Regions from separate parts of the Homo sapiens genome. Here region 2 is linked to region 1. Evidence: fine-mapped expression QTL. A gene starts in region 1. The other region holds a variant in brackets. All regions are shown on one strand. Distances are between the middles of the regions.

Evidence for each region. PIP is the estimated chance that this variant, and not a neighbour inherited with it, causes the effect.
Region 2: its variant is fine-mapped to the expression of LRRC2 in cerebellar hemisphere (GTEx, PIP 0.98).

Annotation. Positions count from the first base shown.
Region 1 is chr3:46,559,731-46,570,689 of GRCh38, reverse strand. It overlaps LRRC2 (leucine rich repeat containing 2), which reads left to right and starts at 4,388. Exons shown (of 9, transcript NM_024512.5): 1 at 4,388-4,513. RefSeq lists enhancers at 4,217-4,511, 4,779-5,689, 5,690-6,600, 7,272-7,773.
Region 2 is chr3:46,651,397-46,662,355 of GRCh38, reverse strand. No RefSeq gene overlaps it. Among named protein-coding and RNA genes, the nearest start is that of ALS2CL, 37 kb to the left of the region's middle. RefSeq lists an enhancer at 966-1,561. The variant A/G (reference allele first, on the strand shown) is at 5,308.

The DNA.
Region 1 (10,959 bases):
CATTGTGTATATGTACCACATTTTCTTTATCCATTCATCTGCTGATGGACACTTAGGTTGCTTCCAAATCTTGGTTATTGTAAACAGTGCTGCAACAAACAGGAATGCAGATATCTCTTTGATATACTGATTTCCTTTCTTTTGTGTGTATACCCAGCAGTAGAATTCTGGCTCATATGGTAGCTCAATTTTTAGTTTTTTGAGGAATCTCCAAACTGTTCTCCATAGTGGTTGTACTAATTTACATTCCCTCTAACAGTGTACAAGGGTTCCCTTTCTCCACATCCTCACCAGCATTTGTTATTGCCTGTCTTTTGGATATAAGCCATTTTAACTGAGTTGAGATGATATCTTATTGTAGTTTTGATCTGCATTTCTCTGATGATCAGTGATGTTGAGCATCCTTTCATATGCCTGTGTGCCATTTGTATATCTTCTTTTGAGAAATCTATTCAAATCTTTTGCCCAGTTTTTTTGATCAGATTGTTAGATTTTTTTCCTATAGCGTTGAGCTCCTTATATATTCTCATTATTAATCTCTTATCAAATGGGTAGTTTGAAAATATTTTCTCCCTTTCTGTGGGTTGTCTCTTCACTTTGTTGATTTTATCCTTTGCTATGCAGAAGCTTTTTAACTTGATGTAATCCTATTTGTCCATTTTTGCTTTGGTTGCCTGTGTTTGTGGGGTATTTGTGTGGTTGTGGCCTGTGGTTATGGCATTGACCAGACCAAGGTCTTGGGGATTTTGCCCAATGTTTTCTTGTAGTAGTTTCATAGTTTGAAGTCTTAGATTTAAGTCTTTAATCCATTTTGATTTGATTTTTGTATGTGGTGAGAGATAGGGGTCTAGTTTCATTCTTTTGCATATGGATATCCTGTTTTCCCAGCACCTTTTATTGAAGAGACTGTTCTTTTCCCTAGCATATGTTCTTGGTTCCTTTGTCAAAAATGAGTTCACTGTAGGTGTGTGGATTTGTTTCTGGGTTCTCTATTCTGTTCCATGGTCTATGTGTCTGTTTTTATGCCAGTACCATGCTGTTTTGGTTACTATAGCTCTGTGGTATAATTTGAAGTCAGGTAATGTGATTTCTCCAGTTTTGTTATTTTGCTTAGGGTAGCTTTGGCTATTCTGGGTCTTCTGTGGTTTCATATAAATTTTAGAATTGTTTTTTCTATTTCTGTGAAAAATGTCCAGTATTTTGATAGGGACTGCGTTGAATCTGTAGATTGCTTAGGGTAGTGTGGACATTTTAGCAACATTGATTCTTCCAACACATGAACATGGAATGTTTTTCCATTTTTTGGTATTTTCTTCAATTTCCTTCATCAGCGTTTTATAGTTTTTATTATAGAGATCTTTCACTTCTTTGGTTAAGTTAATTCCTAGGTATTTAATTTTATGTGTGGTTATTGTACATGGGATTACTTTTTAAATTTCATTTTCATATTGTTCACTGTTGGCCTATAGAAATGCTACTGACTTTTTTTTTTTTTTTTTTTTTTTTTTAAGACAGGGTCTCTGTTTCCCAGGCTGGAGTGCAATGGCACAATCTCGGTTCACTGCAACTTCTGACTCCTGGGCTCAGATTATCCTCCTACCTCAGCCTCCCAAGTAGCTGGGACTACAGGTATATACCACCATGCCTGGTTAATTTTTGTATTTTTTTTTTTTTTGTAGAGATGGGGTTTTGCCATGTTGCTCAAGCTGGTCTCAAACTCCTAGGGTCCAGCAATCCACCTGCCATGGCCTCCCAAAGTGCTGGGATTACAGGTGTGAGCCACTGTGCCCAGCCTGCTACTGGTTTTTGTATGTTGATTTTGTTTCTTGCAACTTTACTGAATTTGTTTAGTTTATCAGTTCTAATAGTTTTCTTGTGGAATCTTTAGGTTTTTCCAAATATAAGACCATATCATTAGCAAACAGATAATTTAACTTCTTCCTTTCCAATTTGGATGCCCTTTATATCTTTCTCTTGTCTGATTGCTCTAGCTAGGACTTCCAGTTCTATGTTGAATAACAGTGGTGACAGTGGGCATCCTTGCTGTGTTCCAGATATTAGAAGAAGGGCTTTCAGTTTTTCCCCATTCAGTAAGGATACTAGCTGTGGATCTGTCATATATGGCTTTTATTATGTTGAGGTATGTTCCTTCAAAACTCAGTTTTTTTGAGGGTTTTTATCATAAAGGAATGTTGAATTTTATCCAGTGCTTTTTCAGCATCAGTTAAAATGATCATATGATTTTTATCCTTTATTCTGTTAATCTGATGTATTGTGTCAATTGATTTGTGTATGTTGAACTATCCTTGTATCCCAGGCATAAATTCCACTTGGTCATGGTGAATGATCTTTCTAATGTAGTGCTGAATTCGGCTTGCCAGTATTTTTGTTGAAGATTTTTGCATCAATATTCATCAGAGATGAATTTTGACCTGTAGTTTTCTTTTTTTTTGATGTGTCTTTCTCTGGTTTTGGTATCAGGGTAATACTGGCCTATAAAATGAGTTTGCAAGTATCCCTTCCTCCTCTATTTTCTGGAATAGTTTGGGTAGGATTGGTATTAGCTCTTCTTTAAATGTTTGGTAGAATTCAGCAGTGAAGCCATCAGGTTCTGGGCATTTTTTTACTGGGAGACTTTTTATTACAGCCTTGATCTTGTTACTTGTTATTGGTCTGTTCAGGTTTTGAATTTCTTCCTGATTCAATCTTTGTAGGTTGTATGTACCTAGAAGTTTGTTCATTTCTTCTAGACTTTCCAATTTATTGGCATACAGTTGCTCAATGAGTGGATTTTTAAAAGTAAAAGAAGGAGACAGAGAGGGATTGATATAAAGTTATTTGTTATGAATTTTCATTGGTTTACAGAAATAACATTGATAAGTGATTGGCTATATATCCTTTAGCTATAGGGTGTGGTTATAGTGTCTGGCGTGTTGCTATTAGGCTAATTTACAGCTACTTGTGACAATAGCAAGTAATTTCAAGAGATGAAGACATATAGCTCAAAGAGGGGAGTAGGGCATGAGTGCAGTTTCATTTTAATGTCTCCTTGGGCCTGATAATGAAAAAAACTTGCATTTCTCAGATAAAAGTCCTTTTTTTTTTGAGACAGAATTTCGCTCTTGTTGCTCAGGCTGGAGTGCAATGGTGCGATCTCGGCTCACTGCAACCTCGGCCTCCCGGGTTCAAGCAATTCTCCTGCCTCAGCCTCCCCAGTAGCTGGGATTGCAGGCGCCTGCCACTACGCCCAGCTAATTTTATATTTTTAGTAGAGACGGGGTTTCTCCCTGTTGGCCAGGCTGGTCTCAAACTCCCGACCTCAGGTGATCCACCTGCCTCGGCCTCCCAAAGTGCTGGGATTACAGGCGTGAGCCACCGTGCCCCACCAAAAAGCATTATTTTCAAAAGGCCAGGCACGGTGGCTCATGCCTGTAATTCCAGCACTTTGGGAGGCCGAGGTGGGCGGGTCACCTGAGGTCAGGAATTCTAGACCAGCCTGGCCAACATGGTGAAACCCCATCTCTACAAAAATACAAAAATTAGCCGCGCGTGGTGGCAGGCGCCTGTAATCCCAGCTACTGGGGAGGCTGAGGCAGGAGGATCGCTTGAACCCGGGAGGCGCAGGTTGCAGTGAGCCGAGATCACACCACTGCACTCCAGCGTGGGCGACAGTGAGACTCCTCTCAAAAAAAAAAAAAAAAAAAGAAAAGAAAAGAAAATAATGATTTTTAAGGAAATGAATTTTAGAAGTATGACACATATATCACACAAAAGGTATTTTTCAGTTTAGGCTAAGGGATATGAGGAGCCATTGCCATTAAGGATCAGGACGTGTTCACATGGACTCCTGGGAGCAGCCAGGGAGTTGATTACTGATTATTAACTTGTCATATTTTCACGATGTCGGCTATCAGCAAAACATATTTGGCCAATTAGTAAAGTATCTAAAGAGAACCTAAACTCACATACATTTTAGGATATTAAAAAGATAAAATGTAACGGTGAAATTGAGACCTTCGATGTCTGCTGCTTCCAACATCGAAAACACTTTTACATTCCCTTGGTCATATGGCTTTCAAAGCCTGCGTCTGGCTGGGTTCCCAGCTTAGCGTGCTGAGCACTCGGAACCAGCTCCCTTCCATTCCACACCCTCCGGGATCTCCAGTGTGAAAATGTCTGGCCCTGGGTAGGAGGCTGCAGATAGTCCCTGGGCCGGGGCTCGCGCTGGCCGGCTGCAGCGCGCAGGGTGCCAAGCCCTCCCCTACGAAGTCTGTTTTGTCTCAGGCTGGGCTGAGTCACATAGAATAGATAGATAGTTGATTTAGCACATGTCCTCCAGATCATATTATCCGCCTACAAATATAGCCTGTTAGCGCACAGGCACGGGAGGCTTCTTCCGGCTCGGCCGTGCTGCTCAGCGGGTGTAAACAGCCTCTGCGGTGTAAACAGCCTCTGCGGTGTAAACAGCCGCGGCGGGCAGGCCAGGACTGTCAGTGCCCGCCCCTCGGGGCAGGTAAGCGCTGGGCGTCCGAGGTGGCCGGGGGGCGGGAGCGGGGGCCTTGCGCTCCCCGTGGGAGGACGCGGGCGGATGGCCGGTGCCCCGGGCGCTCAGTTGTTTAATCCTTCCTCTGTGCCTTGGTGACCTGCAATCTGCCGGAGCGACAGGGGTAAACGTCCCTAACCGGACAGCGGCTGGGGCTTAGGCATCCACCGTTATCTGAGGTCCAGGACTATGGTGGGAAGGCGAGAAAGGAGAGAGCGTGGGGAGGCAGGGGTCCCCGCGAGTGAATCTTGCTCCGGCTTAGCAGTTCCCCTGCGCGTACTGCTCCGGCGCCCAAGGCTGAGCCCAAAGCTTTCTGGTCCAAAGCGCTGTCCAGGGGAGATAAATCAACTTTGTTTGTGTCCTGAATGGTATGATTGACACATGGCCCTGGCGGGGAAGTCTTTTCTTCCAGCGTCTCACGCCCCCTGGCTTGGGGTGGGGACAGGCCTGAGGCAAGGGCGGAAAGTGACTGGAGACCCAGAGGAGGAGGAATTGTCTGGCTTGTTAGCGGCTCTGCCCTGTTGCTAGCTCTTCTGCTGGACCAAACCCTCTCCCAGAACTCAGGGACTGGGGGGTTCACCCATTATTCACCCAAAGAACCTCTGCTAATCATGCCAGGTGGAGGAAAAACCCTCGGATGCTCACATACCTCTTGTTTTTGTCTTACATTTAATTGGTGACAGGGATTCTTAGTTTCCTTTCTTTTTTCTTTAAATGATTGAACTTTTTTTTGATCTTGCTAGGTGCCAGGTACTGTCTTAAGCTCTTGACACAATGATCCTATGTGATGTTCTCGCCAACCTGTGAGCTCAGTGCTGTTTGCTCCATCACGTCCACATGAGAACATCAGGCTCAGAGAGGTTAGGCTGTGTTCTCAGGGACATGTGGCCAGAGAGTGGGTAGGCAGGGCTCCCGCCCAGGCAGCTTGGCCTTGGAATTGCCCTCTTAATCCCGTCTGGACCCTCTGCCTCCCCTGGCTGGATTTTCTAGCTAAACAAATTACAATAAAATTAATCAGAAGTCCCCAGGGAAACTCTGATCATGTGGCATAAATGTCATTTAATTCAGAATTTGGCTGACTATACTGACCTTACTTGACTATTTAGCTCCTATTTACCCCCGTTTCTATCAGAAAACTCACTGCGTTCATTCCAACGCTGGTGTCCAGGCAGTGGCCTTATGTGAGGATAGAATGGAATTTGTGAGTCACCAAAGCTCCTTGGTTGTCATATTATTGCCCATTGTATCTTGGTGCCCCCAGAAATTCCCATGGGTTACAGTGGTTCTCTTGGATACAGCAAGGCTGATGATAGAGGTTTTCCTTACATTGATGACACGCCTGGAAGGGTGCTGTGGAGGGCTTGGAGCTGGGCAGCCTGGGGTGGAGGGGTCCTGGGAGTTCTGAGGGGCAGGTGTGGAGGAGAGAGCCTCTCTCTGCATGGCTGGTTAAGGTGACCTCTGGCATCAGCTCCGTCCTCCTCTCCTGCTCCATCCCTTGCTCCTGTCCCCCTCCCAGCCTCCCAGTGGGAGTGCCAAGAATGGCTTGGCACCTGCATGATGAGGTGAGTCTCCTCCCAGACTTTGTTGAGTCTCCTCCCAAACTCCCCCAGATCCTTCTTAGGATGCTCTGAGAGGTTAACCCTGCACCCACTCCACACCTCCTACCTAGCAACCCAGTGTAATTTGACAAGAAGGGAGAGGACTAGGTGACCGGAAAACCCCCCCTCCCCCTGGCATATGACTTCTGAGTGGAGACTAGTGCCCTGGTGCCAGGGGACATGTTTTTCCAGTCATGCCCTCTGGCTCTGTAAAGTGGATGGCTCTGTAAAGTGGATGGCTCTGTAAAGTGGTTCTGATATAACTGGGTTGGGGAGGAGGGTGTGGAAAGTTATTCAGCCAAACCTGCCCTGTCAGCCCTTTCCCCTTCCTCAAGGTCCCTGCAGGACTCTCCCAACCCCTCCCCCACCCTTTCTCTTTTGGCTTCTACAGGGGTTGGTTCAGCCTCTGTTGTCTAATGAACGTGCTGTGCTCAAATATATCCTTTGATGCTCTCCCCTCTAGATTGGGAACTTGGAGTCATGGACAAGGCTTCTGTCTTTCTGCATTTAATGAATGTCCATAAATGTCACTTAGGGTTCCTAGGCATTGAAAAACAGAAATACAAACTAAGTACACTGGCTCAGTACACACGGTTTCTGTGTTGAGGTTCAGAAGCAGGAGACTGGCATCTGTAGCCCTTGGACTACTCAAAACCCCCTCATTTGATGGCCATAGCACACCTCTGTCTGCAGGGGCTTGGACAAGGTGATGGAGAGGCCCCACCAGTTCCCATCGTATGCTACAGTATGACCTGCTCAGCTGAACTCATGGGGGCCGGTGTGTGAACCCAAGTCTGGGGACTCCCAAGTGGCTGCTCCTGTCAGTAAACTGTGGCTCGTCTATGGCTTGGTCCATGGACAGACAAAATATAATGAATCAAATACTTTAACTTGCATGAAGTATTGTGATGCAAATAAACAGTAGACTGAGAAATAAAATAACAGGCGGGTTTACTTTAGATGAGGAGGCTGGGAAGGCCAGACAGGAGAAAACATTTAAGGTGGGTTCCAGGGGTGTGGGGAGGAAGCCATGTGACTTGGGGAGGAATGCTCTAGGCTGAGGGAGCAGTGTGTGCTGAGCTCTGAGGGGGAAGAGGCGTGGGGTGGATAAGCACAGAGGAGGGGAGCAGGAGGGGTGAGGTGGGATGGGCAGGCCGAGGGCAGACCATGCCAGGGGCTCACTGCCTCTGTGGAAAGCTGGGATCTCATTCTCATTTCAAAGGCAGGCCTTGGGGAGATTTGTGCCAGGTGGTGGCATGATCTAGTTCTCATTGGAAAGTGACTCTCACTATTGAGTAGAAGATGGGGTTGAGTGGGAAGCCAGGAGACCAATTAGGGGGCCTTTCCCCAACTGAGGCAAGGCGTGACACTAGTTGGTGGTGAGAAATGCATGCCCTCTAAGATGTAGGTGATAACTGGAGGTGTGGATGAATGTGTGTGTGTGTGCATGCATGTGTGTGTGTGCATACTATCTGCATAGTGGGTGGGCAGAGTGAGGAAACGAAGCAAAAGAAGTGACTTCTGGCCGAGTACAGTGGCTCATACCTGTAATCTCAGCACTTTGGGATGCCGAGGCGGGCAGATCACCTGAGGTCAGGAGTTTGAGACTAGCCTGGTCAACATGGTGAAACCCTATCTCTACTAAAAATACAAAAATTAGCCGGATATGGTGGCTTTTGCCTGTAATCCCAGCTACTCAGGAGGCTGAGGAAGAATTGCTTGAACCCAGGAAGTGAAGTTTGCAGTGAGCTGAGATTGTGCCACTGCACTCCAGCCTGGGTGACAGAGTGAGACTTCATCTCAAAAAAAAAAAAAAAGAAGTAACTTCTAGATCTTCTAGATTATGATGGAGTCATTCCTGAGGTGTGGAATTAAAGGAGGCCTAGGATGGACAAACTCTAAAGGAGCAAGTTTGGAGAACATCATGTTTCTTTGAGATATGTGTGAGACATCCAAGTGCATATTCAAGGAGGCAGCTGAACATGCACACCAGATGGCACCAGAAGTTAAGACTGATTTTTAAAGTGTCTTTTATAAAAATCCACTGTCTTGGTTATTTATTGCTGCATAACAGTTTATTCTAGACTGTTAGTTTAGAATAACACACATTTATTATCTCACAGTTTCTGAGAGTCAGAAATCCAGGGCAGTTTAGCTGAGTGTTTCTGGCTTAGGGTCTCATGAAGTTGTGGTCAAGATGTCCACAGGGGCTGCCGTCATCTGAAGGCTTGACTGGGGATGGAGGATCTGCTTTTAAGACAGCCCCCTCTCATGGCTGTTGACAGGAGGCCTCAGTTCCTCTCCTTGTGAAGCTTTTCCACAAGGCTGCTTGAGCATCATCATGACATGGCAGCTGACTTCCTAGAGTGAGTGATCTGACAGAGAGTGAAGACCTAGTCTCAGAAGCCACACACCATTACTTTCACCACATTCTAGTCATTAGAAGTGAGTCACTAAGTCTAGCCCATGCTCAAGGGGGGAGGAATTAAGTTCTACCTTTTTAAAGGGAAGAATGTGAAAGACTTTGTGGATATAGTTTAAAACCATCACATCCACCAAAGCAAAATATTTTACATTTTATTGTCCACTAAAGCTAGGATCAGTAAACTATAACCTGCAGGCCTGGCACCTGTTTACATATGGAATGTGGGCACTGCTGGAGCATCTGGGGACCAAGCTGGGGTATTTTCTTCTGTTTCTACTCCCCCACTGCTCTCAGCTCCTGTCCACCTGGCCAGCTGTACCTTGCTGCAGTCCAGGGCCCACCCTGGTTGCCATCTACACATTGGAGACTCTATTGTTAGCAACCAAGCAATGGAATCTCAGTTCAGGAGCTGGTGACTGAGTAGGTCACCTTGCTTCCAGCCAGCTATCCAACTTGTGATGACGGGAGGAGAGAAGGACACACAGGCACCTGTCTGGGTGATACTGGGGCAGAGAAAGAAATGGACTGCAGCAGGCTCACTCCCCGGCCCCTTCCCCTGCCAACCTCTCCCCTCTCTTTTTGTTTTTTTGAGACCCAGGCTGGAGTGCACTGATGCAATCTCAGCTCACTGCAACATCTGCCTCCCAGGCCCAAGTGATCCTCTCACATCAACCTCCTTAGTAGCTGGGACCACAGATGCATGCCACCACCCAGCTATTTTATTTATTCATTTTATTTTTTATTTTTGGTAAAGACAGGGTTTTGCCATGTTGCCCAGGCTGCTCTCAAACTCCTGAGCTTAAGCAATCCACCCACCTCAGCCTCCCAAAGTGCTGTGATTACAGGTGGGAGCCACTGCACCCAGCCACCCTGCCCCTTTTTCACCATACCTACTAGCCCTTTCCCTCTTGGGCTAGTCCCTCTTGTTCTGAGAATGTTTTTGGCAAGCAGCAGCTGGACATGAAACATGCTAACTACTCCGGATGGTTCTCTGGGGGCAAGCAGGGAGAGGCTCGCCAGAGGGTTCTCCTTTGTTATGTAAACGCCTACATATATCTTCAATTTTGCTTATTGGCCTGGGAAACCTCTATTATTTACCATCAAGTTTTCTCAGCCCTGTACTAAAACAAAAGATTTTCCAGGCATTATTTTCCTTAATCTAACCTTTGAGAGTGTGCTGATGGTTAACATTTTCACTCAGGAGCTGGAACACTAAGTGTCTGGGAGTCCTTGGACTGGAGAGGAACATGGCTGATGACACTTTGTGGCCCCAGTGTTCTTTCCTTTACAGTGAGAGATGCCACCGTTCTCCTTCTGTCTCATCATTGCAGGTGTTTTCTTCTCTGGAAGATGCTCTGTGACTGTGGACAGTGTAGCCCAAATTGAGGGAGGCTTGTTCTCATAATTCTGCTACAACCACACAAAACCAGACCCACAGCAGGGAACCGGAATCAGATGCTGTCTTGGAACCATGACACTTTGCTGTCAAATTCAACGAGGGTCCAGGCTGAAGCTTTACACTTAGGCTGCTTTGTAGAATCTACTTCGTTGTAAAGTTTCCTATAAGAGGATATTGCTTTGTTTGTATTGAGGGTCTCTTGACTGGATCCCGTAGAGGTTAATTTTTCCCTTTTCTGTGTTGGGGTAGCATATGATGATGATGACATTTCTATAGTCCTAAAGAAAGTTAATGCTTAGGACATTGCATTCTATGTCTTTGCCTGAAAGATTGTGTTGACTAGAGTTTATTTTACAAAGAAGAGATTAGCTTTGTAAATTTGTGAGGAGATCTCTCCCCTGAGCTGCTGAGGGACTGGCACCTGTGTCTGTCCCTGACAACTGTGTCCTATGGGCTCCCCAGTGTGGTTTCTCCCCTGGATGGAGGGTCTCCTCCTTACCCTGGACTGACACATGGACTCTCATTTGAACTACTTTCTCAGTCTCAGAACCCACCCATGAACTACTACCTTCTAGGTTAAGGTAAAATTTGTCCAGTTGTCTAGAGAGGTCTGGACTTATCTCTGTCCTACATGGGATGCCAAGGGCTGGGCTGGACCTGGCACTTAGGATCTTGTATGTCATAGCTTCCCAGCACCTCTGGACATCACATGTAAATCTCTAGCAAATGTGGTCATCACCTACTGTTCTTAGTCTCCAGTTTTCATTATACATGTTGCAAACAAAACTTCGCAAGATGCTGATTTACATCCTGGCACATTCAACGCCCCCTTAATTGTATAAGAGAACTTCTTTTCCTGCTTTTTAAAAACACAGGGAAAATGGTGAACATGGTTAGATGACAGACAGAATATGCTCTTTCCCACCAAAATACTGAGAGTAGTAATGACTTATAACTACTTAAAAATATGTCAGGGCCTTTGGTAATTAAATTT
Region 2 (10,959 bases), 92 kb before region 1:
CTTGATGCTCCTGGAGCCCCCTGAGCCTCTCCCACCTCATGGCCCTGCACTGGTGTCCTCCTCCTGGCCCTCACTCTCCCTGGAGCAGTCTCATTCTTGTCCTTCAGGTTCCAGGCTAAACAGTGCTTCCCACGAGAGGCTTCCCTGACCCGCGGTTTGCCGCCTCTGCCCTCTCCCTGTATCCTGTCATTGAGCACGTTTTGTCCTCACTGACACCCTCTCCTGGCTAAATCCCCCACTCCTTGCTGGACTGGGTGCCTGGGGAGGGCAGGGAGAGGCCTCCTCTGTCTTGGTCACTACTTCATCCCCAGGGCCTTGAACTGTGCTCTGCACAAGATCCATTAAGTGAATGAATCACAACAATGAGGCTGCAGCTCCCCAGCACCTTCTATGCCCTCCCCCTCCCCATCTAATCTAGTTTAGTGAATGGAACAGCGGGGGATTCAAGGCAGCTGTTGCTCCTCAGTGTGGCGCTAGTTGGGGAGTTAGAGGGAAGAGTTCAGTTTGACTCCAGGACAGGGCTTGAATAATTCAGAACACTGTTTTTTTTTCTTTTGCCACAGAGTCTCACTCTGCTGCCCAGGCTGAAGTGCAATGGCATGATCTCTACTCACTGCAACCTCTGCCTCCCAGGTTCAAGTGATTCTCCTGTCTCAGCCTCCCAAGTAGCTGGGATTACAGGCATGCACCACCTGGATAATTTTTGTATTTTTAGTAAAGACAGTGTTTCACCATGTTGACCAGGCTTGTCCTGAACTCCTGACCTCAAGTGATCCACCCACCTCAGCCTCCCAAAGTGCTGGGATTACAGGCATGAGCTACCACACCTGGCCCAGAACATTATTGATGACACCCCTGAGGCTGGGGAGCCATGACCCTGCCCCTTTAAGGACCCTGCTCCGAACTGAAACAGTAACACACATCCATGAGCTAGGACAGGGAAGAGAATGACAAGGACTCTAAACCACCCAGCAGTGAAATTTCCAATGGAAATAAGACCCACTGGGCCCCTCTGTGTTGGGGGTGGAGTGGGGGAGGGCAGCACTCCTGGAGACTCAGATCGGTTTTCAGGTTGTTTGCCCCAGCACTAAGCCGAGAAGTGAGCAAGGAGGGTTTGAAGCTTCAAGTCCACACCCAAGGTCTGCTCAGTGGGAAATCCTTCATCCCTGAACCCACCAGCAATTCCAGACCCAGGGGTGAAGGGAGGTGCAGGTGAGGGTGAGTATAACATGTGGCTTTTCCTGGAGGGCAGGGAACAGGAGTGGGAAGTCAGAGCTTGGGCAACGGGGACCGAGCTGCAGGGCCATGTGACCTAGTGCCCCAGGGGATTTGGCTGTCTTCCTTGGCTCCCGGAGCTCAGAGCAGTGCTGCAGCTCATGCCAGGGCATGTGAAGACAGAGCTAACTGGAGTGCATGGGGTGCCTTTGGGTGGAGGTTGCTGATGGCTGGGACAGATGCACCCTGCCCACTGTCTCCTCTGGGGACAGTGACATCTTTCCCTGCTCTGATAGCTTGAAAGGACCTGCATGGCTGAGCTGCCCAGGGGAGCATTGAGGTGCTTCCTCTGTGTCCTGAGGAGCCAGGTGCTCTCTGCACCCCCAGCTGCTGGAGCCCAGAGGGTGGCAGCCTGGAGCTGGGGCAGCGGTGCCTGGTGCAGTGAGGACTCGGTCTGTGTGGCCTGGTTAGCACAGGACCATGAGGAAGGGGTGAGGACCATCAATAAGAGGCCATCTCCAAGGCCTGCCTTCAGAGGCAAGCTCTTCTCTCCCACACAATTGCTTTGATCCTCGTGGGAAATGTGGTGGACCCTTTTAAGGGGCGGCAGAGAGCACTGGAGGAGAGAGAAAGGGGCCAGCAGGCACATGGGAGATACCTTGACCTCAGGGAACCACTGTTTCAAACCAGAAAGGATCTTTTATACCTTGCTGTCATGCAGCCAAACCAGGCGGACATACGAGCAAGCAGGTGCACCCACGCATCTGTACATGAGCAGTGCGGACAAGTGGCTGCAGGAGGCCCCCGGCCTGTCTCAGGCACTAGCACAGGACTATTCATCACTGGTTCCTGCATTTCTTTCAGGTTTGGCCAAGGCATCCCCAGGGACAAGCACGGATGACAGCAGGTGAGCTGAAATCAACCTGTGCTTACACAGTGAGTCTTGCCAGTGCCTCTGAGGAAAGATGACCTTGGGGAAGTGAGTGGTCATTGGTTTCCTGTGTGCCCGGTCCTTCTGGAGAAAGAGTCTGCAAAACATGCCTAGTCTGTGTGGTCACAGCAGGAAGAGGGCAGAGGTGGGGGCCCTGTCTTAGCAGACAGCACCATGAAACTGGATCTTGAAGAATGAATTTGCCAGAGGGAGGAATGGCTTGCCTGGCAGGGGGGAAGGCAGAGTCAAAGGCCCAGAGGTAGAAGGGCATGACTTTCCAGAATGCAGAGAGCTGGGAAATGAGTTGCAGGGAGGTCAGGCAAACCCCAAGTGAGAAAGACTTTCAAAACCTGCAGGGGCATTTCCCCATATCCCCTAATGTTCAGCCTCTCAGTATTTTTTTTTCTGCCCTGGTGGTGGCTTTCAAACATATCCACCAATTCTTCCACACTCTCCCCATCAAGACACAGAGGCCACGAACCTCACCTTAAACCACAGCCCTTAATGATTACAGCAGGAGAGAGCCGAGTGCCTTCTGAGGCTGCTTATAGAAAGCCACATAGGTCCTGCCAGTTCTCCTGGGATCCTTGTTCTGGGAGCCTTTAACCATCATGCTGGGAGTCTGGCAGCCCTGAGCTGCTGTGTGGGGACGCCTCAGAGAGAGAGACCCAATAGGCCCAGCCTATCCAGCATCCAGTGCCTGGAGTCTTACCAGCCCAGACACTGGGCGCGTGAGTGAGGACACTCGCGTGTGACTGCAGCCTCCATGGACTGGAACCTTAGAGATGCCCCCAGGCAACAGCTGCCTAGCAGCCCAGTCAGCCCCAGATTCCTGAGCAAAATAAACCTCGGCTATTGTTTCAAGCCATTGTTTTGGGATGGCTTTTTAGTGCAGCACTAGGTAAACGGAACAGTCCTTGCCAAACCTACTATTCATCATTTAACTTTTAGAGTTTTTCTATACTTCTACTTAAAAATGGGAATCTGTTAAAATGGGAAACTTCATATCCCTGTGTACGTGGAAATCCAGCATCAATGACCGTAAACGGAAGACAATTCTATAAACACAGAGGAAAAAAATGCATGTGTTTGGTTTCTACACAGATGCTGCTGTCTCTTGGGGCCTGCACCTCGGCAGAGGCTGATTCCAGCTTGCAGTTCTCCGCCACTTGCAGGTGCGGCATTGAAATCATTCCTTGGTATTATCTGTCTTTGTGATTAATGATAGTTTAAGATGGTACACAGCCACAACAAGTAACAGAATTTAATTTCACTAGAAATTTTAAATTGCAGAGGTGAAACAACAGAATGCCCCTTGGTGAAAGAGCAATGTCAAGCAGATGAGTAGTTTTTCCACAGTAAAAGTAACTCAGCAATTAATATTTATTTTTGGTTACAGGCGGGCATGCAGAGCATTTTTTTTTTTTTGAGACAGAGTCTCAGTCACCCAAGCTGGAGTGCAGTGGCGCAATCTCAGCTCACTGCAATCTCTGCCTCCCAGGTTTAAGTGATTCTCCTGCCTCAGCCTCCCATGTAGCTGGGATTACAGGTGTGCGCCATCATGCCCAGCTAATTTTTGTATTTTTGGTAGAGACGGGATTTCACTATGTTGGCCAGCCTGGTCTCAAACCCCTGACCTCAGGTGATCTGCCCGCCTCGGCCTCCCAAAGTGCTGGGGTTACAGGCATGAGCCACCATGCCCGGGCTCAAAGCATTCTTTAAATGAAATGTTTAGTATAGTCAAATACTGATAACCTGCTGGGTGGAGATCAAGGCGCGACTGGACTAAATTCACCAGGTGCTAGTCATTGAGTGTCTGCTGTGAGGCAGATGCCTTGCTAAGGCTGGGCATTAAAAAATGCCCAGTAGGCTGGGTGCAGTGGTTCCCAGCAGTTAGGGAGGCCAAGGTGGGAGGATCACTTGAGCTCAGGAGTTTGAGACTAGCCTCGGCAACATAGTGAGACCTCATCTGTATAAACATTTTAAAAATTAGCTGGGCATGGTGGCATGTGCCTGTAGTCCCAGCTACTCAGGAGGCTGAGGCAGGAGGATTACTTGAGCCCAAGAGGTTGAGGCTGCAGTGAGCCTTGTTTGCACCACTGCACTCTAGCTGGGGCAACATAGTGAGATCCCATCTCCACCAAAAAAAAAAAAAAAAGAGGTCCAGCATTTAGTTCTTAACTCCATTGGTTCAACATGTAAATAATTCTTCTCTGCACTACCTCCTGTCCAGTTCTGCTACCACCCCTTAGTTCAGTTTCTCCTTCCTTCTGTCTTGCAAATGTCATGGGTGATTTCCTGTGGTTAGTGTGGATTCCCTCCACAAATCACAGGGCAACTTTCTAGCATCCCAGTTCTGAGTCAACTGCACAACAGGAAAGGCACCTTCTGGAATTGACTTCTACCCTCCTTTCCAGCCACAATCCTGGCATTTATTGAACCTTGTAATCTATAATTCTGCCATATGAGTCTTCTAAAACAGTGGCCCCCAACCTTTTTGGCACCGGAGACCAGTTTTGTGGAAGACAATTTTTCCACAGACTAGGGGCGGGGTGGGGAGGTGATTTCGGGATGATTCAAGCGCATTACGTTTATTGTGCACTTTATTTCTATTATTATTACATTGTAATATGTAAAGAAATGATTATACAACTCACCAGAATGCAGAGTCAGTAGGAGCCCTGAGCTTGTTTTCCTGCAACTAGAGATGGTCCTATCAAAGGGTGATGGGAGACAGTGACAGATCATCAAGCATTAGGTTATGGTAAGGAACCTGCAACCTAGATCCCTCGCATGCGCAGTTCACAATGGGGTTTGCACTCCTATGAGAATCTAATGCTGCTGATCAGACAGGAGGAGGTGCTCAGGTGGTAATGCCGGTGATGGGGCGTGGCTGTAAATACAGGCGAAGCTTTGCTTACTCACCCACTGCTCACCTTCTGCTCTATGGCCTGGCTCCTAACAGGCCATGGACCAGTACTGCGAAGGGGGTTGGGGACCCCTGTTCCAGAATTTACCCTAATTCTCCATGCCCATTCACTCCTCAATGCCCAGCTGATTTTAATATTGTTCTTCTGATTTTAATGTTGTTCTGTATTGGTCAAGTTTGCAGCAGGAGACAGATGGTCCTCTTGATAGATGGAACCATAGGGCCTCTTTCC[A/G]AAAGTGTGGGCTGTGTTTAGAGAAACTAACAAGGAGAGGAATCACCCTGCGGCTAGCAATAATGGTGAGACACTTAGTATTACTAGCCCTGATGGGGCAACAGAGAAGGACTTTAATGAGAAACAGGTGAGAGAAGGGTTGAAAGAGGGCCCCCTGCAGAGGCTGCTGTATGCGTTGGTGTTGGCACTGGGCGGCCCAGAATAAAACAACCACTCCATATGCTGCACCCAGCTGGGAGCCAGAGGCCCCCAGAATCTGGTTGCAGAGAGAGATGTAAAAGAGTGTAGAGCAGGTCTAAAAGGGTAAATGGGAGCTATCCAGCTTGCCTCTTCAATGGATTTGTTTTTATATTTATTTCAATAGTTTTTGGGGTATAGTTGGGCTTTGGTTACATGGATAAGTTCTTTCGTGGTGATTTCTGAGATTTAGTGCATCCATAAAGCAGTGTATACTGTACCCAGTATATGGTCTTTTATCCTTCACTCTGCTCCCAACTGTCCCCCTCCCAAGTTTCCACAGTCCATTATGACGTTCTTAGGCATTTGCGTCCTCATAATTTAGCTTTCACTTATGAGTGAGAACATATGGTATTTGGTTTTCCATTCCTAAGTTACTTCATTTAGAATAGTGGCCTCCAGCTCCATCCAAGTTGCTGCAAAAGACATTATTTTGTTCCTTTTTATGGCTGAGATGTATTCCATGATGTATATATACCATATTTTCTTGATCCACTTGTTGGTCAATGGGCATTTAGATTGGTTCCATATCTTTGCAATTGTGAATTGTGCTGCTATAAACATGCGTGTGCAAGTGTCTTTTTCATGTAATGACTTCTTTTCCTCTGGGTAGATACCCAGTCGTGGGATTGCTGGATTGAATGGTAGATCTACTTTTAGTTCTTTAAGGAATCTCCACACTGTTTTCTACAGTATGGTTGTACTAATTTACATCCCCACCAGCAATGTGAAAGTGTTCTCTTTTCACTACTTCCACACCATCAATATCTATTGTTTTGTGACTTTTTAATTATGGCCATTCTTGCAGGAGTAAGGTGGTATGTTATTGTAGTTTTAATTTGCATTTCCCTGATGATTAGTGATGTTGAGCATTTTTTTCATGTGTTTGTTGACTGTATATCTTCTTTTGAGAACTGTCTATTCTTCTTCTTTTTTTTTGAGGTGGAGTCTCGCTCTGTTGCCCAAGGCTGGAGTGCAGTGGTGCGATCTCGGCTCACTGCAAGCTCCGCCTTCTGGGTTCACGCCATTCTCCTGCCTCAGCCTCCTGAGTAGCTGGGACTACAGGTGCCCGCCACCATGCCCCGCTAATTTTTTGTATTTTTAGTAGAGACGGGGTTTCACCGTGTTAGCCAGGATGGTCTTGATCTCCTGACCTCGTGATCTGCCCACCTCAGCCTCCTAAAGTGCTGGATTACAGGCGTGAGCCACTGTGCCCGGCCGAGAACTGTCTATTCTTATCCACCGCCCACTTTTTGATGGGATTATTTGTTTTTTTCTTGCTGAGTTGTTTGAGTTCCACAGGTTCATTTCTACTTGCTGAGAAACTCTTAGCACATGCATCATCTCCTTTGGGAATTATTCTCTGACCAGCCGAGGCTGCCACATTTATCTCTTCTGGCTTTTCTCACTTCCTGGATATCCCTGTGGTAGAACTTTCTACTCCATAGCAAAAGGATACCTTTACTTGCCTTCATCATTTTTCATGAAATCTCATTGCTATTCCAATGCTATTGAGCTAGCAGAGAATTTGGAATCACATAGTCTAAGAGTTAAAGCCTCACTCTGCTACTTCAACAACATTTAACATCAGATGCAACATTTAACTTCTGTTTAGAAAAATGTTGATGATGATAATACCTAATTAATTTTTATGGATTAAAAGGCAACTCACTGGCATCTTTCATATTCTTGGCTGCATATCAGCTTTTCATTAGACTTTTAAAAGATAGATTTCTTTTTTTGGTCAGGTGTGGTGGCTCACACCTGTAATCCCAGCATTTTGGGAGGCTGAGGTGGGCAGATCACCTGAGGTCAGGAGTTCAAGACCAGCCTGGCCACTGTGATGAAATCCCGTCTCTGCTAAAAATACAAAAATTAGCTGGGCGCGGTGGCAGGTGCCTGTAATCACAGCTACTCGGGAGGCTGAGGCAGGAGAATTGCTTGAACCCGGGAAGCGGAGGTTGCAGCAAGCCGAGATGCCCCACTGCACTCCAGCCTGGGCAACAGACCAAGCAAGACTCTGTCTCAAAATACACACACACACACACACACACACATAGTTTTTAGAGTAGTTTTAGGTTCACAGCAAAAGTATACAGAAAGTGCAGAGTTCCCACACACCTTTAGCCCCTATCCATGCATAGCCTCCCCATCTATTAACAATCTGCACCAGAATGGTGCTTGTTAAAACCAATGAACCTTCATTAACATGTCATTATTGCCCAAAGTCCAAAATTTACATTAGTATTGTTCATTCTATGGGTTTTGACAAATGTATAATGACATAGATCCGTCATTAATAGAATCATACAGAATAGTTTCACTGCCCTAAAAATCCTCTGTGTGGTACTGGCATGGAGACAGAGATATAGACCAATGAAACACACTGAAAAGCCCAGAAATAAACCCCTTGCCATCTGTATTCTCCTTTGGTGAGGTGTCTTCAGGTCTTTTGCCCATGTTTAAATCAAACTGTTCTTTTACTTATTGTTTTTTAAAGAGTTCTTTGTTTTGCATTACAGTCTTATGTCAGGCATATATTTGGCAGAAATATTTTCTCCCAGTCTATGACTTCTCTTCTCCTTCTCTTGACAGTGCCTTTCACAAAGCAGAAGGTTTTTTGTTGTTGTTGTTGTTGTTGTTGTTGTTGTTGTTGTTGTTTTGAGACGGAGTCTCGCTCTCGCTCTGTTGCCCAGGCTGGAGTGCAATGGCGCAATCTCAGCTCACTGCAATCTCTGTCTCCCGGCTCCAAGCAATTCTCTTACTTCAGCCTCCTGAGTAGCTGGGATTATAGGCGCGCACCACCACACCCAGCTAATTTTTGTATTTTTAGTAGAGACGGGGTTTCATCATATTGGTCAGGCTGGTTTCAAACTCCTGACCTCATGATCCACCTGCCTTGGCCTCCCAAAGTGCTGGGATTAAAGGCGTGAGCCACCGCGCCCGGCTAGAAGTTTTTAAATCTTTTTTTTTTTTTTTTTGATACAGGATTTCATCCAGACTGGAGTGCAGTGGCACAATCACAGCTCACTGCAGCCATGACTTCAGGTGATACTCCCATCCCAGCCTCCTGAGTAGCTGGGACTACAAGTGCATACCACCACACCCGGCTAATTTTTGTATTTTTTGTAGAGACGGGGTTTTGCCATGTTGCCCAGGCTGGTCTCAGACTCCTGGGCTCAAGTGATCCTCCCACCTCAGTCTCCCAAACTGTTGGGATTATAAGCATGAACCACTGCACCAGGCTGAAGTTTTTAATTTTAATGAAGTCCAGCTTATCAATTATTTATTTCATGGATTGTATCTAAAAGGTCATTGCCATACCCAAGGTCATCTAGATTTTCTCTTATGTTGTCTTCTAGGAGTTTCACAGTTTTACATTCAGGTCTATGATCCACTTTGTTTTAATTTTTGCAAAAAGTGTAAGGCGTGTGTCTAGATTCATGTTTTGGCATGTAAATGTCCAGGTGTTTCAGCACCATTTGTTGAAGAGACTATCTTTTTTCCATTGTATTGCCTTTGCTCCTCTGTAAAAAATCAGTTGGCTATATCTATGTGGGCCTATTTCTAAGCTCTCAATTCTGTCCCATTTATCTATTTGTTTCTCCTCTTACCAATACCACACTGCCTTAATTACTGTAGCTTTATAATATGTCTTTTTTTTTTTTTTTTTTTTGAGATGGAGTCTCACTCTGTCACCTAGGCTGGAGTGCAGTGGTGTGATCTTAGCTCACTGCAACCTCCACCTTCCGGGTTCAAGCAATTCTTGTGCCTCAGCCTCCCAAGTTGCTGGGACTGCAGGCACATACCACCACGCCTGTAGTCCCAGGCGTGTATTTTTAGTAGAGACAAGGTTTCACTATGTTGGCCAGGCTCGTCTTGAACTCCTGACTTCAGGTGATCCACCAACCTCGGCTTCCCAAGGTGCTGGGATTACAGGCATGAGCCACTGTGCCAACCTATAGTAAGTCTTAAAGTTGGGTAGTAACAGTGCTCTGACTTTGTTCTCCTTCAATATTGTGTTGGCCGTTCTGGATCTTATGCCTTTAGATATGTAAACTTTAGAATTGGTTTGTCAATATCCACAAAATAACTTGTTAGGATTTTGATTGGGATTATGCTGACTCTATAGTTCAAACTGGGATGAACTGACATCTTGATAATATTGAGTCTTCCTATCCATGAACATAGACTAAGTTATCTCTCCATTTATTTACTTCTTTGATTTCTTTCATTAGGCTTTTGTAGTTTTCCTGGATCTTGTGCATATTTTGTTAGATTTATACCAAAGTATTTCTTTTTTTATTGCTGATGTAAATAGTAATGTGTTTTTAATTTCAAATTCCACTGTTCATTGCTGGTATACAGGAAAGAGATTGGCTTATGTATATTAATCTTTTATCTTGCAACCTTGCTATAATTGCTTAGTAGTTCCAGGAGGATCGTGTGTGTGTGTGTATGTGTGTTTGTGTGTGTGTGAACTCTTTCAGAAAAGACTGGGTGCATTCAGGGTGGTAAGGCCATAGACTTGTCAAATCCTTCAGACTTTCTACAAAGACAGACAATCATGCCCTCCGCAAACAAAGATGGTTCTATTTCTTCCTTCCCAATCTCTATACCTTTTATTTCCTTTTCTTGTCTTATTGCATTAGCTAGGACTGCCAGTATGATGTTGAAAAGGAGTGGTGAAAGGGGATATCAGGGATATCCTTGCCTTGTTCCTGATCTTAGCAGGAAAGCTTCTAGTTTCTCACCATTAAGTATGATGTTAGCTGTAGGTTTTCTTGTAGATCTTTATCAAGTTGAAATCTTGTTCTCTATCAAGTTAAGGAAACTCTCTTCTATTCCTAGTTGGCTGAGAGTTTTTATCGTGAATGAGTATTGGGTTTTGTGAAGTGTTTTTCCTGCATCTATGGATATAATCGTGATTTTTCTTCATTAGTCTGTGGATGTGATGGATTACATTAATTGATTTTTGTATGTTGAGCCAGTCTTGCATACCTGCGATAAAGCCCACTTTGTGGTAGTATATGATTCATTTCATACATTGTTGGATTTTATTTGCTGATATTTTGTTGAAGATTTTTGCACCTATGTTCACAAAAGACATTGGTCTGTAGTTTTCTTGTAATTTATTTGTCTGGTTTTGGTATTAGGATAAATGCTGGCTTCATAGAATGAGTTAGAAATGATTTCCTCTGCTTATATCTTCTGGAAGAGATTGTAGAGAATTAGTATTATTTTTTCCTTAAATGTTGGATGTACAGTTAAACAATAAACCCATTTGGGCCTACTGCTTTCTGTTTTTGAAGGTTATTAATTTTTTATTCGAATTCTTTAATAGATATAGGCCTATTTTGATTGTCTATTTTTACATATGTAGTTTCAGTAGTTGTGTCTTTTAAGAAATTGGTC